Linked DNA regions of Homo sapiens: region 1 is linked to region 2. A link means that fine-mapping ties the variant in region 2 to the expression of a gene that starts in the linked region. Tissue or cell type: whole blood. Region 2 holds a variant in brackets; the other region holds the start of a gene. All regions are shown on one strand. Distances are from middle to middle.

Region 1 (8,103 bases), 35 kb after region 2:
GAACAAAGGAAGGAACGAAGGAAGGAAGGAAGGGAAGGAGGGAGGAAGGAAGGAAGGAAGGAAAAAAGGAAGGAAAAATTTAGGCTGGGCACAATGGCTCACGCCTGTAATCCCTAGCACTTTGGAGGCCGAGGTGGGCCGATCGTGAGGTCAGGAGATCGAGACCATCCTGGCTAACATGGTGAAACCCCGTCTCTACTAAAAATACAAAAAAAATTAGCCGGGCGTGGTGGTGGGCGCCTGTAGTCCCAGCTACTCAGGAGGTTGAGGCAGGAGAATGGCGTGAACCCAGGAGGCGGAGCTTGCAGTGAGCCGAGATTGTGCTACTGCACTCCAGCCTGGGCAACAGAGCGAGACTCTGTCTCAAAAAAAAAAAAAATTAATTTAAAAGAAATTTTTTTTGAGACTGAGTTTCACTCTTGTTGCCCAGGCTGGAGTCCAGTGGCTCGTTCTCCACTCACTGCAACCTCTGCCTCCTAGGTTCAAGCGATTCTCCTGCCTCAGCCTCCCAAGTAGCTGGGACTACAGGCATGCACCACCAGGCCCGGTTAATTTTTGTATTTTTAGTAGAAACAGGGTTTCACCATGTTGGTCAGGCTGGTCTTGAACTCCTAACCTCAGGTGATCCACCCGCCTCAGCCTCCTCCTGCTGAGATTACAGGCATGAGCCGCCATACCCAGCTTTTTTTTTTTTTTTTTTTAAAGAACATGATTCAACTGTATTGCTCTCTATAAGAAACTCACTTTATAGACTGGTTCTGAAAGGATGGAAAAAGATATTTCATGCAAATATCTTTTTGCGTGACCAAAGAAGAGGAGGGCTGGCAATACTAATATCAGAAAAATTACTTGTCCAGGCCGGGCACGGTAGCTCACACCTGTAATCCTAGCACTTTGGGAGGCCGAGGCGGGTGCATCACCTGAGGTCAGGAGTTTGAGACCAGCCTAAAAAATATGGTGAAATCCTGTCTCTACTAAAAATACAAAAATTAGCCAGGCGTGGTCGTGCATGCCTGTAGTCTCAGCTACTCAGGAGGCTGAAACAGGAGAATCACCTGAACCCAGGAGACAGAGGTTGCCGTGAGCTGAGATCACACCACTGCACTCCAGCCTGGACGACAGAGCAAGACCCTGTCTCAAAAAAAGAAAAAAGAAAAATTACTTGTCCAAAAGGTTACAAGAGATAAAGAAGGCATTGTATGTTAATAAAAAGTTCAATACAGCAAGAAGATATAACAATTATAAACATTTATATACCTAATAACAGACCATCAGAACATATGAAGCAAAAATTGGTAGAATTGAAGGAAGAAATAGACAATTCCACAATAATAGTTAGAGACTTCAATGCCCCACTCCCAAGAATAAATAGAACAAACAGGAGACAAGTAAGGAAATAAAGGACTTGAGCGACACAGTAAGACAACCAGGTCTAACACATGTACAGACACTCCCCAGCAACAACAGCATCCACATTCTTCTCAGGCACACATGGGATATCCTCCAGGATGGACCATATGTTAGGCCACAGATTAAGCCTCAAGAGATTTTAAAAGGTAGACATCAGCCAGCTGTGGTGGCTTAGGCCTGTAATCCCAGCACTTTGGGAGGCTGAGGCAGGAGGATTGCTCGTGCCCAGGAGTTTGCAACCAGCCTGGGCAACACAGCCAGACTTCATCTCTACAAAAAGAGACAGAAGAAAAGGAGAAAGAGAGAAAGATAAGAAGGAAAGAAAGAAGAAATAAAAGAGATCATACCAAATATCTTCTCCAAGCACAATTGGATAAGGCTAGAAATCAATATGGGGGGGTTAAAAAAAAAAAGAAATCAATATCAAAGGAAAACTGGAAAATTCACAAATTTGTGGAAATTTACACACTCTTAAAAGAACCAATGGATCAAAGAAGAAATCACAAGGGAAATTAGAAAATACTCAGAAACAGGCCAGGCTGGGTGGCTCACACCTGTAATCCCAGCATTTTGGGAGGCCGAGGTTGGCGGATCACTTGAGGTCAGGCGTTTGAGACCAGCCTGGCCAACATTGTGAAACCCTGTCTCTACTAAAAATACAAAAATTAGCCAGGCGTGGTGGCAGGCACCTGTAATCCCAGCTACTTGGGAGGCTGAGGCAAGGGAATTGCTTGAATCCAGGAGAGGGAGGCTGCAGCGAGCAGAGATTGCACCAATGCACTCCAGCCTGGGCGACAGAGTGAGACTCCATCTCAAAATAAATAAATTAATTAAATAAATAGAGAAAATATTGAGAAACAAATGAAAACAAAAACACAGCATGCCAAAATTTACTGGACACAGTGAAAGCAGTGCTCAGGGGAAATTTTATAGCTATAAGTGCTTCAAAATCATAGACAGAAAATTGCCAGGGCCTGGGGGTATGGGGATGGGAGGAGGGAAGAGGAAGTTATTGTTTAATGGGGACAGAATTTCAGTTTCAGTTTAGCAAGAAGACCAGAATTTTAGAGATAGCTGATGGTGATGATTGCACAATATGAAATGAATGTACTTTGTTGTTGGGGTTTTTTTGTTTTGTTTTGTTGTTGTTGTTGTTGTTTTTTGAGAGGGAGTCTCGCGCTGTCGCCCAGACTGGAGTGCAGTGGCAAGATCTTGGCTCACTGCAAGCTCCGCCTCCCAGGTTCAAGCCATTCTCCTGCCTCAGCCTCCCGAGTAGCTGGGACTACAGGCGCCCGCCACCACGCCCGGCTAATTTTTTGTATTTTTAGTAGAGACAGGGTTTCACCGTGTTAGCCAGGTTGTGTTTTTGTTTTTTTTTTTTTTTTTCAGACGGAGTTTCGTTCTTGTTGCCCAGGCTGGAGTTTAGTGACTGTTGGAGTGAGTGAGCCATCTTGGCCCACGGCAACCTTCGCCTCCCAGGTCAAAGGCTTTTCCTGCCTCAGCGTCCTGAGTAGCTGAGGCTACAGGCATGGGCAACCACGCCTGGCTAATTTTAGTATTGTTAGTAGAGACGGGGTTTCACCATGTTGGCCAGGCTGCTCTAGTACTCCTAGGCTCAAGCGATCCGCCCACCTCGGCCTCCCAAAGTGCTGAGATTACAGAAGTAAGCCACCTTGCCCAGCTCCTTTGTATAAATAAATGATATTGATTTTCTTCTTGCAGCTCAGGAATTAGATCTGTTATTAGAATTTGCTTAAATTTAAGAAATGGCTGGGTACTGTGGCTCACCGCTGTAATCCCAGCACTTCGGGTTGCCGAGGCAGGCGGATTGCTTGCGTCCAAGAGTTCGAGGCCAGCCTCGGCAACACAGTGAGACCCGCCCGCTCTCTGCACCACTCCTTCCCCCCCTCCTTTCCCCGTCTCTACAAAAAATACAAAAATAAATAAATTAGTCCGGCATGGTGGTGACTGCCTGTGGTCCAGCTACGCAGGAGGCTGAGGTGGGAGGATCGCTTGAACCCCGGTGGTCGAGGCTGCAGGGAGCCATGATCGCGCGCGCCACTGAACACCAGCCTGGGCGACAAAGCAAGACCTTGTCCCAAAATAGATTAAATAAATAAATAAATAAATTTAAGGAAAAAGCAACTTGATTCGAAGATAAATAGTGATAGTGCAAGTGGTGCCGAACTAACGATAAATTTGGAAAACAGCGGCCCACGCGCAGAGCCCGTCCCAATTCTGGCAGCCTTTGGATTTGGCTTCCACGTTTTCCAGATTTCCCTCGGCCTCTAGCTCGCTTGCGTCAGAGGGGCCCCGAGGGGCGGCCCACCCGCTAGCCCCGCCCCCAACCGCTCACCGCCCCGCGAGCCCCGCCCCCTCGGCCTCCTCCTCATCGGCCGCCGTTGCGCGGCGCAGAGCGGCAGCAAGATGGCGGCGCAACAGCGGGACTGCGGGGGTGCTGCGCAGCTGGCGGGGCCGGCGGCGGAGGCTGACCCCCTAGGACGCTTCACGTGTCCCGTGTGCTTAGAGGTGTACGAGAAGCCGGTACAGGTGCCCTGCGGACACGTGTAAGCGGCGAGCCCGGGCCTGGTCGGGGGGCGCTTAACTGGGAAGGGAATGGAGCCGAGGAGCGAGATGGGTCTCAGGGCGGGAGCCAGAGGACCCACCCAGAGGGGCCTCCCGGGGGTGTCCCCCGGGGCTCCTAAGGGCCGTGAAAGCTGCCGGGGCGCTCTTCTGTCCCGCCCCGCTCACTCCTAAGTATCCCGTTCCTCCGCCCGTCTTAGCGGGGCAGCTGCTGTCTGTTGAGCGCCTGCGATGTTCCAGGCGGCCTGTCAGTCTCCTTCCCACACGTGATAGTGGACTCGTGCCCTGCGGGGACTTTAGGCTCCGAAGTCCGCCCTTGGAGAGCCGACGTTTCCTTTCTAGTCCACGTCGCTCTTAAAGCATAGGACATTTGGCGTCGTGTCTAGCTGTGGCGAGTTATTCTACTGTGCACTAAAGTCGGGAGAAACGCTGAACTAGACTAAAACAACAAAAGGGAAGTCTTTATGGGGATCTGGCCAGTTTGCCCTTAGCTGTGAAAGGGGGGTGGGAGTTGGCAGATGGGATTGTTAGCATTCTACTTCCTGTGTAGGAGGTTTGTTTCTTTCAGTTTTCAATTAAGCCTTCATGACCTGAATATTGTGAATAGAGTGGTTATAATGATTAAAGCAGATATGTGTATAAATGTCCAGTCCAGGTCCTGGGCTGTGGCCGGGGCTTTCGAGGTTGGTCAGGTTGGTCGATTTGAATCTAAGCCTTGTTCCATCAGACGCACAAACACATCTGAGTTGAAAGAATTGTAGACAACGTGGCCACCTGCTTCTTGCCTCAGAATTGGCTTTTCCTCTGGCCCCTCTCAGTGCTTATCGTGGGATCACCTTGGCATTGGTCTTGGCAGCGGGCACAGTAGCCATTGCACTCCATGGGCATTATTCTATAGCCACCCTGCAGCGGGGGAGGGTTGGCAGCCATTTTACAGGTGAATACACTGAGGGTCCGAGGCTCTCTTAGGGAAGGGTCACCGTGGCCTAGCTCTTCCCAGATGTACTGCAGGTGACCATTTCAGTAGTCCAGAGAACAGTGCTTGGCACCTAGCTGGCTGCTTTTTGCTTCATCATGTTGCTTTAGGCTATTCATCTTTGCAATTCGGTTAGCCTGGAACTCTTCCCCCCACCCCTCCCTTTTCAGGCTTCAAGTCCCAGGTTAAGTTACCTCACCAAATACCATCCCCATCTAAATTACTTCCCCCACTTCCTTTCTGGGACTTAACTTCCTTCTCCTTGCTTGCACAGAGCAAAACTTAACAGCTCATGACGGAGTGGCCATATCTTTATTGCCCCTGAACTGACTGGAATGGCCTCTGTGTGCCAGATTTTGGGGTAGACTCTGCCTTCAGAGTTTACAGTCCAGTGAATTGATTATAAATAAGTACCAATGACTGGTCAAACTATTGTAAAAATTCATTCTGCAAGTGGGAGGGTATTTCAGGGATCACACCTCTGTGCGTGGGGTGAGTGATCAGGTAATGGTTGAATGAACTAATAAGTCGTGTAAGCAAGCTTCACGAGAGTTGAAGTGGTCTTTAGCTTTTTCATTGAATCCACTTATCCTTGGATCAGATTTACCTGATTTTGGATTAATTCAGTGGATTTCATTTACTATTAACATTTGTAAAAAGGCTAGACCCAGCACAGTTTGCTAAATGAAGAGCAGCAAAATTTGAGATTTTCTTGAGCTTGGTGAACCTTTCCTAGGTCAGAGGGCAAGGAACAGTACTGGTTTTCAAACCTTGGCTCTTCTCTATCCTCGCTGTCCTAGCCCCACGTGATCAGCAGTTCAGTGCAAATTGAAGACAGATGGAAGCACCTCTGTGAGGGCAGCCCAAATCCCCGCTAGCTCCAACCGACTGCTTTCTCCTGTGCCTAGTTGATTTTTACCTTTTGTGCTTGGAAAGTTGAGCATCACTGCAACTCTGGCTGGGGCATTGGATTTTTATAAAACTTTATTTCAAGCCCTGAATGACTGTGTTCTCCAATCTGGTAGAATACAGCTGGAGAAAGGCAGCTGGCTGGGTGCCCAAGAGAAGGGAATTTCTTCCTAGCACTGTGACGGAGTGGAGCATCGGAAGGCTGAACTAGAAAAGGGCGCATAAGTAGGAAATAGAAACTGAAAAGCCATCCCAGGATATTTGAGTTGTTCAAAAGCAGGCTGGTAGTTTGGGCATGTCTCAGGCACAAAGTGACTCGTGAACATTTGATAGATGAGCTGTACCTGTGTGTGTGCTTGAGAAGAGACTTCGAGCTGCTTTTATCTGCATGCTGGGTTTGGTTCCATTATACTCACTGGACCCTCTGTGCTCTCTTGGGTTCCTCTTGTCATCTGCCTTTGTGAACAGGCAACACAAGTGATGGCCACAGGCCCTGCCTGTCTCTACTGCCTCATCACTTGCCCTTCTCACCATGGTCTACCGCATCATGGCCCCCAAGGTCTGCCTGCCTTCCTTTCCAGTCCTCATTTGTGTGTGGCGTGATCTTGGTGTGGAGCTCTGCACCCAGATCTGTGTGGCTGTCCTCGTAATCAGGTCCCACCCAGCTCAAATGCCAACTCCTCAGAAGCAGCTTTCTATGATCACCCCAGCTGGTCTGTTTGCCATATTTCCTTCATATTTTTAATCACTATCTGAAATTAACATTTGTGTTTCCCTTCACTCTAGAATGTAAGCATCATGAGAACAGGGCTTTGTCAAGTTTCCATTGCCCTCAGTGGTGAATGAATAGACTCCCTCACCTTCTCTGTACCTGGTCTGGAATTTTGCCTAACAGCATTAACATCTAACTTAATGACAAGGAGGAAGGAGATTCTTAGAGGCAGTAGAAAATGGTCAAGTGTTCAGAAGATGGCCTTTCATTATATATCTTTAGTTCTTTCTGGCAGATTTGGTTATACTGTCTTAATCTATCAGGTTGGGTAAGTAGCCCAGGGTGTCTTCTCCATTCTTTCTGTATGCCTTATCTCAGCATTACCATCTTCCTAGGCTTCAGGATAGGAACTCGGTCATCTTTGACTTCTTTTCTTCAAAGTCAGTAAGTTATCAAGTCCTCCTGATTCTACCTTTCTGTGAATGGTTTCCTGAATTCATCCCCTGCTGCTTCAGTCAGACCCTCACAATCCTCTGCCTTTAGCCATCTGTTTGGTTTCTACTTTGTCTCTTCTCACCTTCTCACCTAAAAAAAAAAAAAACTATAGGGCTGGGCTCAGTGGCTCACACCTGTAATCCCAGCACTTTGGGAGGCCAAGACGGGTGGATCACCAGAGGTCAGGAGTTCGAGACCAGCCTGGCTAACGTGGTGAAACCCCGTCTCTACTAAAAATATAAAATTAGCTGGGTGTGGTCATGCGCGCCTGTAACCCCAGCCACTTGGGAGTCTGAAGCAGGAGAATCGCTTGGACCGGGGAGGCAGATTTTGCAGTGAGCCGAGATTGCACCATTGCACTTCAGCCTGGGCAACAGAGCACGACTCTGTCTCAAAAAAAAAAAAAAAAAAAAAAGTAACAAAACTTTGTTTTCCATGATAGCACAGAGATATTTTTCTGAAACCTGGATTTGGCCTTGTTTTGTTAATACCTTCCTTTTAAACTCCTGGCTCCCTACTGTTTATGAGGAAAAGTCTGTTAGATTTTTATTTCCTCAGATACATATCAATTTTAAGCCTAAATTAGGCCTAGAATAGTCTTCCCTTCCTCTGCTAGCTGACCTCTTTTTTTAAAATGCCAGAGGGGTAATGGGCCAACATCTGTAACAAGGTTCGAGGGTGGCACATCTCACACATGCACATGAACACCCAGTCCTCAGGTTCATGAACTACAAAAGGATCCATCTGAACCCTTTTTTTTTTTTTTTTGAGACGGAGTCTCGCTCTGTCTCCCAGGCTGGATGGAGTGCAGTGGCGCGATCTTGGCTCACTGCAAGCTCTGCGTCCTGGGTTCATGCCATTCTCCTGCCTAAGCCTCCCGAGTAGCTGGGACTACAGGCACCCGCCACCACTCCCAGCTAATTTTTGTATTTTTAGTAGAGACGGGGTTTCACTGTGTTAGCCAGGATGGTCTCGATCTCCTGACCTTGTGATCTGCCCGCCTCGGCCTCCCAAAGTG
Region 2 (8,103 bases):
TAGCCAAAACAATCTTTAAAAAGAACAAAGGTGGAGGCGTTACACTTCATGATTTCAAAGTATATTACAGAGCTACAGTAATCAAACTAGTGTGGTACTGGCATGAAAACAGGTATACACTCATAGACCAATGGAATGGAATAGAGAGCCCAAAAATAAACCCTCACATATATGGTCAAATGATGTTCGACAGGAGTACCAAAACCACTCAATGGGGAAAGGACTGTCTCTTCACCAGATAGTGTTGGGAAAACTGGACATTCATAAGGAAAGGAATGAAGTTAGACCCCTACCTTATTCTGTATACAAAAATTACCTCAAAATAGATAAAAGACCTAAATGTATGACCCAAAACTATAAAGACAACTTAAGGGGAAACTTCATGACATTGGATTTGGCAATGATTTCTTAGATATTATACCAAAAGCATAGGCAGTAAAAGCGAAAATAGACAAATGGGATTACATCAAACTTTTTTTTTTTTTTTTTTTTTTGAGACAGAGTCTTGCTCTGTTATCCAGGCTGGAGTGCAGTGGCGCAATCTTGGCTCACTGCAATCTTTGCCTCCTGGGTTCAAGCGATTCTCCTGCCTCAGCCTCCTGAGTAGCTGGGATTACAGGCATGCGCCACCACACCCAGCTAATTTTTGTATTTTTAGTAGAGATGGGGTTTCACCATGTTGGCCAGGCTGGCCTCAAACTCCTGACCTCAGGTGATCTGCCCACCTCAGCCTCCGAAAGTGCTAAGATTACAGGTGTGAGCCATCACGCCCAGCCGACTACATCAAACTTTTAAATTTTTGCACATCAAAAGAAATAACAGTATGAAAAAGATAACCTATGGAATGGGAGAAAATATTTGCAAATCATGTATCTGATAAGGGATCAATATCCAGACTATATAAAGAACTGCAAATAAAAAACAAAAAATTTACCCAATTAAAAAGTGGGCAAAGGGCTGGGCACAGTGGCTCATGCCTGTAGTCCCAGCACTTTAGGAGGCCGAGATAGGAGATAATTTGAGCCCAGGAGTTTGAGACAAGCCTGGGCAACATAGAGAGATCCCGTCTCTATTTTTAAAATAACAAAAATTAAAAGTGAGCAAAGGACTTGAATAGACATTTCTCCAAAGAAGATATATAAATGGCCGAAAAGCATATGAAAAGATGCTCAACATCACTAATCATTAGAGAAATATGAATCAAAACAATAAGATATCATCTCACCCCATTAGGAAGGCTGCTATAAAAACAAACAAACCCCAGAAAATAACAAGCGTTAGCAAAGAGGTGGAGAAATGGGGACTCCTGTGCTGCAGGTGGGAATATAAAATGGTACCGCTGGCCGGGTGTGGTGGCTCATGCCTGTAATCTCAGCACTTTGGGAGGCTGAGGCAGGTGGATCGCTTGAGTCCAGGAGTTTGAGACCAGCTTGTGCAATATGATGAAACCCCGTCTCTACTAAAAATACAAAAAAATTAGCCAGGCATGGTGGCGTGCCTCTGTCATCCCAGCTACTCCGGCGACTGAGGTGGGAGGATCACCTGAGCCTGGGAGGTCGAGGCTGCAGTGAGCTAAGATCATGCCAACTGTATTTTAGCCTGGGTAATCGGAGTCAGACTCTATCTCAAAAAAATAAAATATATTAAGTTCAGGTGTACAATAAGAAAATTAATTAAAATATAAATAAAAATGATAAAATGGGTACAGCTGCTATGGAAACAGTATGGAGACTCCTCAAAACATTAAAAATAGAACGCCGTATAGTCCTGCAGTTCCACTTGAACCGCCTCCTCCTCCTCACATAGGACCTGAAATATGTTACCAGTGGAGATTCGCATGTCTGAAAACCTGGACCTACTCCCATCCCTTAAGCTCACCCCTGCCTTAAGTGATTTCCTCTCATCTCTCATTTATGAAGCTGCAGCCTTGAATCATTCCCATAAGAAGTATTTATTTTTCTACTTTTGCACAATATGTGCAAATAAACAGTAGGAAATTGGAGGTAAACAGAGAGAACAACTACTCCCAGTGCTAAAACAACAAGCAGGCTGAAGTAAACATTTAGGCTCTGGCAAACTCTAAAGGACAAATAATCCAGTTTCCTCAACAAACACGTCGCAAGAAAAAAGTTAGATGTGAAGGTAATACTGTCTCAGCCTGTTCAGGCTGCAAAATACCACAGACTGGGTAGCTTTTATACAACAAAAATTTATTTATCTTAGTTCTGGAGGCTGAGAAGTCCAAGATTAAGGCACTGGTAGATTCAGTGTCTGGCAAGGGCCCAATTCCTGGTTCACAGACGGTCAGCTCGCTGGGTCTTCCTGTGCTGGGAGAACTCCATTCTCTTCAGCCCCTTGTAAGGGCACCCATCCCATTCGTGAAGGCCCCACCCACATGACCTAATCAGCTCCCAAAGTGCCCTCCTAATACAAGCACACTGGGGGGATTAGATTTCAACGTTTGTTTTTTCTTGGGGGGACATATGCAGTCCGTAGCAGGTATCATGTTTTAAAAGCCCTCGTCTCTTAGATAAACACTGAAAAATTCACAAATGAGACAGACATCTAGAATTTGCTTCAGAAGAGTTCAGGAGTAGGAAAGTGGATGGCAAGGGTAGAGACAAAACCAGATTGGCCACAAGTTGGTAACTAACTGTTCAATTGCTGAAGCTGGGATTCATTATACTAGTATCACTTTTTTGCTTTTTTTTTTTTTTTTTTTTTGAGACAGGGTCTCACTCTGCTGCCCACGCTGGACTGCACTGGTGCCATCACAGCTCAGTGAAGCCTGGAACTTCTGGCCTCAAGTGATCCTCCCACCTCAGCCTCCCAAGTAGCTGGGGACCAAAGGCATGTGCCACCATCCCAGCTAATTTTTTTTTAATGGGGTCTCACTATGTTGCCCAGATTAGGCTTCATGTCTTTTGTAAACAAAAAGGTTTTAAAAACAGACAAATTAGGCCGGGCGTGGTGGCTCACGCCTGTAATCCCAGCGCTTTGGGAGGCCGAGGCGGGTGGATCACGAGGTAAGGAGATCGAGACCATCCTGGCTAACATGGTGAAACCCCGTCTCTACTAAAAATACAAAAAATTAGCCGGGCGTGGTGGCAGGTGCCTGTAGTCCCAGCTACTCAGGAGGCTGAGGCAGGAGAATGGTGTGAACCCGGGAGGCAGAGCTTGCAGTGAGCCGAGATTGCGCCACTGCATTCCAGCCTGGGTGACAGAGCGAGACTCCGTCTCAAAGAAAAAAAAAAATAGACAAATTGGGGCTTAAGTGAGATAACAGTTTATTTTTCATATAACAGACCTAGAGGCAGGCAGCACGGGCAGGCCATGGGGGCAGCTTCCAGAGCATCAGGGCCAGCTGCTGTAGCTGCTGCCCACCCCTTCCTCGCTTGGCCCCCTCAGCTTCATAGAGCAGCTCCATCTCCAGCCATCACAGCCATTCCAGCCAGGAAGAAGGGCTGGGTGGGAAGGGCAAGCTCCCTTCCTTGAAGGCCATGCCCAGACACCACACAAAGCACCTCTCCATCCAGGGACCAGACAGTCATCTGACCACACGTGGCTGCAGGAAAGGCTAGGGAAGGCAATCTTTACTATAGGTGGCCACAGATTTGAAAACCGGGGCTTCTACTACCAAGGGGGAGGGGATGGAGACTGGGGTACGATTTGGTGTCTGCCACAGCTCTCATCCCTGAGATTGGTAATCTAGCATCCTAGGTGCCACAGATCGGCCAGCAGAGCTAATGCTGTCCAGCTGGTGGGCCCAATGAGGTTTAAATATGTTTGTCATTTACATGTACATGTAATGTACATGAAGCAATCTGCTCTGAAGTCTCTGTTCCCTTTTGGATGCGGAGCAAGCACCTGGCTTCCTTAGCTCTCCCAGGGTAGGTGTGCGTCTCCAGGAAACTGCTACCCCCGACAGCCAGGGTGGCAATGCCGTTTCCTATGCTATA[G/A]CTCAAAGCAATCCAGCACCTGAGCCTGGCTTTGGCCCAAGGCCTGGGTATTTGTTCAGCCAGCAAATGAAATGGAGAAACCTGTTCAGTGTCTGCCCTGACAGCTGAGCTGCCTGGTGGGAGCCCACACAGCAGCGTGGTCAGTGGGTGGGCACAGGCCTGCTGCTGCTGCCTTAAGATTTCTGCCATGTATTTTGCTTTTAAGTCAATCCTCACTTAAGAAAAAAACACCTTTTTTGTTTTGTTTTGTTTTTCCAAGATGGAGTTTCACTCCTGTCAACCCAGGCCGGAGTGCAATGGCACAATCTTGGCTCATTATAACCTCCGTCTCTCGGGTTCAGGCGATTCTCCTGCCTCAGCTTCCTAAGTAGCTGGGATTACAGGCACCCGCCACCATGCCCAGCTAATTTTTGTATTTTTAGTAGAGACGGGGTTTCACCATGTTGGCCAGGCTAGTCAACCTCCTAACCTCAGGTGATCCTCCTGCCTCGGCCTCCCAAAGTGCTGGGATTACAGGCGTGAGCCACCGCACCCGGCCCTTAAATTGATTTTTAAAGCAAACCTATCACTGTTACAATGGAAAAGTAGTATGGCCTGCCCTAGAAGGTAACAAAACCTGGCTAAGAGCCTGCCACACGCTGTGTCTGATGCCAGGTTTCTCTGTTAAAGACAAGGTAGCATCGAACTGACTCCCTCCTCAAGACAGTTAAATGGATGGAAAAAAATTCAAATGGAATTAACTTTTAAAAAACATCTTCCAATGTTATTAATGCCTCTTTGTCTCTACTAACAAGCATTTCTCCTGGATGATGCAGTCCCCTCTTTGGGAAACATCTGAACTCTGTGTACCGCCATTTCCCCATATGTAAGATGGAGATGGTAACAGTGCCTATTTAATAGGATGACTGAAGCTAGTAAGTAAGATCATGCACATAGTCTCAGGATACAAATGCCTGGCGGGAGGATCACTCGAGCCTAGGAGATTGAGACCAGCCTGGGCAATATAGTGAGACCCCACCTCTACAAAAAATTAAAATTAGCCAGACATAGTGGTGCCCACCTGTAGCTACTTGGGAGGCTGAGGTGGGAGGATCACTCAAGTCCAAGAGGTCCAGGCTACAGCTAGCCATGATCACACAACCGTACTCCAGACTGGGAAGTAACAGAGCCCGTCTTAAACTAAAAAAAAAAAACATGGCCGGGCGTAGTGGATCACACCTATAATCCCAGCACTTTGGGAGGCCGAGGCAGGCAGATCACGAGGACAGGAGATCGAGACCATCCTGGCTAATACAGTGAAATCCCGTCTCTACTAAAAATAACGAAAAATTAGCCAGGTGTGGTAGTCCCAGCTACTTGGGAGGCTGAGGCAGGAGAATGGCGTGAACCCAAGAGGCGGAACTTGCAGTGAGCTGACATAGCGCCACTGTGCTCCAGCCTGGGCGACAGAGCAAGACTCCGTCTCGAAAAAAAAAAAAATTTTTTTTACAAAAAATTAAAAAAATAAAAAGTGCCAGGCTCGCAGTATAGCACTCAAATGCTATTTGTCAGTTTCATGGAAGAGAAAATTTAAGTCTTGTCATTAAAAAACTAAATACAGCTTAAGGAAAAATAAACTCCCAAGTAACCAAACTTCAAAGCAGGGCCAGGGGACATAAAACCCCAAACACTTCATTTAACAATGGAAGACACTTTATTATTATTATTTTTAATCATCTCTCAACATTTCAACTCTTGGTAGAAATCAAATGTAAAACATCTGCATTTTTAAATTAGCATGTATTTAACTATCTCAATCACAGCAACCTCATCCAGTAAGATGCACACCTGGGAGCAGGGCTGTAGTATTTCGTATTCCAGTCTGTGACCACAGTGCGTCCGTGATGACAGGTACACTGGACTTTCCCTCCTAGGATGTGTTAGTCATTCCTGCTTTTGTCCATAGGGTAAGTTACGTGGCATCACGGTTGGTTAGAAAGAGTTAGTTACTGTAATGCTGGCGCAATCTGGAAATGGAAAACTAGAAAACTAGAGCTCTCAGGAGTGGGCCAGGCATTGCCGATTCTGAAATGTGAAAAGGAAGAACATCAAAGATGAATGCCCTGCTAGGCTGGTCTTAGTAATAAAGTTGGTTGAAATTCAGCTTAATATACACACTGTACATCTACATGTGATCTACCAGATAGATATATATATATATATATATATATATATATATATATATATATATATATATTAAAAAGAGAGCCATAGAAGATTTGGAAAACCTTAAAATCACTCAACTGAGTTGGAAGAACATCAGCAAATTCACAGTGGCCTCAGGATTCAGCCAGACTTAAACTTGCTCAAGAGCTGAATAACTTTCTCCCAGAAAAGCCCACTGCATATAAATCCCTTAACATTGTGTACATCACAAACAGTTATGGCTAAAATATAGTTAGTTCACAAGGAAGCGGCTTTATTTTCAAACTCTTGCCCCACTCCTGCTCTTGTACCCCCACAAGGAAAATCCAGGGGTTGGTAATTCACATGAGAAGCTGAAGGGGCCTTCAGGCTTGGAAGCGCTTAGGCTTAGCTGAGCATCTGAGGAGCCGTCTCTCTGATGGGCACATGCCGACTCCTGCCCACTTTTAGTGCAAAAAGATTGCAAATGTTGCAGATGAGTCCTGGAAACTGGTGAAGAGAAGAGGATTGAGATGGAGGGGCAGTAGGAATCCCAAATGATTTTCCTTCTGAAACGAGACTCAAGAAGTGTGAAGTGCAAGGTTCCTGCTCAGCAAGCTATAGGTCCGACAGGTGAGGTCCCTGAATTGTCATAGGTTAGCAGTCTGCAGACACACAGACCTCGACACCCGCGCTCACCCCCTAAGTGCACACTGGAGGTAGGTGTATAGATAGTTACTGCAGGGAAGACAGTGGCTCTCCACCAGCTCAAGAAAAGGAGGCTTCATGTCTGTTCCTCCCTGCCCCAAACTCTCCTCTCCCCTCGGGCCATAGTGAGTGGAGGATACAACACGAATGGGCGCGAGGCCCTCCCTTGGAAGACTAAAGAACCCAGGGCATTTAATAAATAGCTACATAATTCATTTTTTTAACCACGTTGAAACACACAGCAAGTTGAATATTTATTTAAAAATAAATCTCAAAAATATCTATTGACAGTACAGTAAGAGGGGCATGTGCAAACAACAGAAAGGGGGAAGTCAGTCCTGCTGTGGGAAGCCCACACATCAGTGTGTTGGAGCAAAGTTCACGAAGGCCATGGGCTGACTGAGCTGTGGTGTACGAAATGACATTCAGCTAATACTGGACTCGGTTCACCTTTGACACCTGGAGAGGTGGGGAAGCCAGGGGGTGGGGAGTCCAGCTGGGGATCCTTGTGTTTAGGAAGGGGGCGGCCAAGGGATGAGCCTTTGGGAGAGGCCCCGTGTGGCAGGAGGGCTCATTTCACAAGCCAACAGGCCTCTAGCTCGCCGCTCCAGGTGGATGTTTGGTGACCTGAAGGGCCCTTCCCAGTCCAAGTTGGCTTTGCAATGGGAGGGGTAGGTGCAGCGAGGGTCCCAGAGACAGAAATCCTCTTTAAAGGAAAAAACAAAACAACAAAACAAAACAAAACAAAACCCCAAAAAAAGAACCAACTGAACAGGGAGTGGAGAGATTAGCAAAATGAATCTGAACGGAAGTGCCACCTTCTCCCTTGTCAGACAACAAAGCAGCCATTGGTTGAGATATCTGAGTCGCTAAGTGAACTCCCACGTGGACACAGCCAGCCCACGATCTCTGCCACCTACATGGTCAAGTGCAGGCCTCCGCCTCTGAGATCAATGCGTTAGTACTTCTTCACCGTGAAACCCGAAAGGTCGGTTGATGTAGCCCTTGGAGCTGGAAGGGGCGAGGCCGGTCTATCTGTACACGAGATGGGAGAGCTGGGTGGACTTGTAGTTCAGCTGGTTGTTGGGCATGAACTTGTGCAGCTCACTCTTTTTGTAGCAGGGGTCATAATGGTAAGCGCTGAGGCAGGCGTCACATGAGACTTTTGAACACTGGGTGCAGGTGTTGGTGGCGCCTGGGCGGTTGCAGAAGCCACAGCGGGAAGTGGGCGTGGTGGAGGGCTTGGATTTGGAGTGAAGGTGCGGGAGGCGGT

The links. PIP is the estimated chance that this variant, and not a neighbour inherited with it, causes the effect.
Region 1: it holds the start of RNF114, and the variant in region 2 is fine-mapped to the expression of RNF114 in whole blood (TOPMed, PIP above 0.99).

The regions. Positions count from the first base shown.
Region 1 is chr20:49,932,576-49,940,678 of GRCh38, forward strand. It overlaps RNF114 (ring finger protein 114), which reads left to right and starts at 3,822. Exons shown (of 6, transcript NM_018683.4): 1 at 3,822-3,977. The coding sequence starts at 3,838. LOC124904976 (small nucleolar RNA U13) reads right to left here and starts at 7,825; the gene lies at 7,721-7,825. RefSeq lists silencers at 1,384-1,584, 3,023-3,102, 3,669-3,858, 4,317-4,611, 4,897-5,191 and 1 more and an enhancer at 3,471-4,076.
Region 2 is chr20:49,897,758-49,905,860 of GRCh38, forward strand. It overlaps SPATA2 (spermatogenesis associated 2), which reads right to left. Exons shown (of 3, transcript NM_006038.4): 3 at 5,634-8,103. The coding sequence ends at 7,862. Among named protein-coding and RNA genes, the nearest start is that of SPATA2, 14 kb to the right of the region's middle. The variant G/A (reference allele first, on the strand shown) is at 3,960.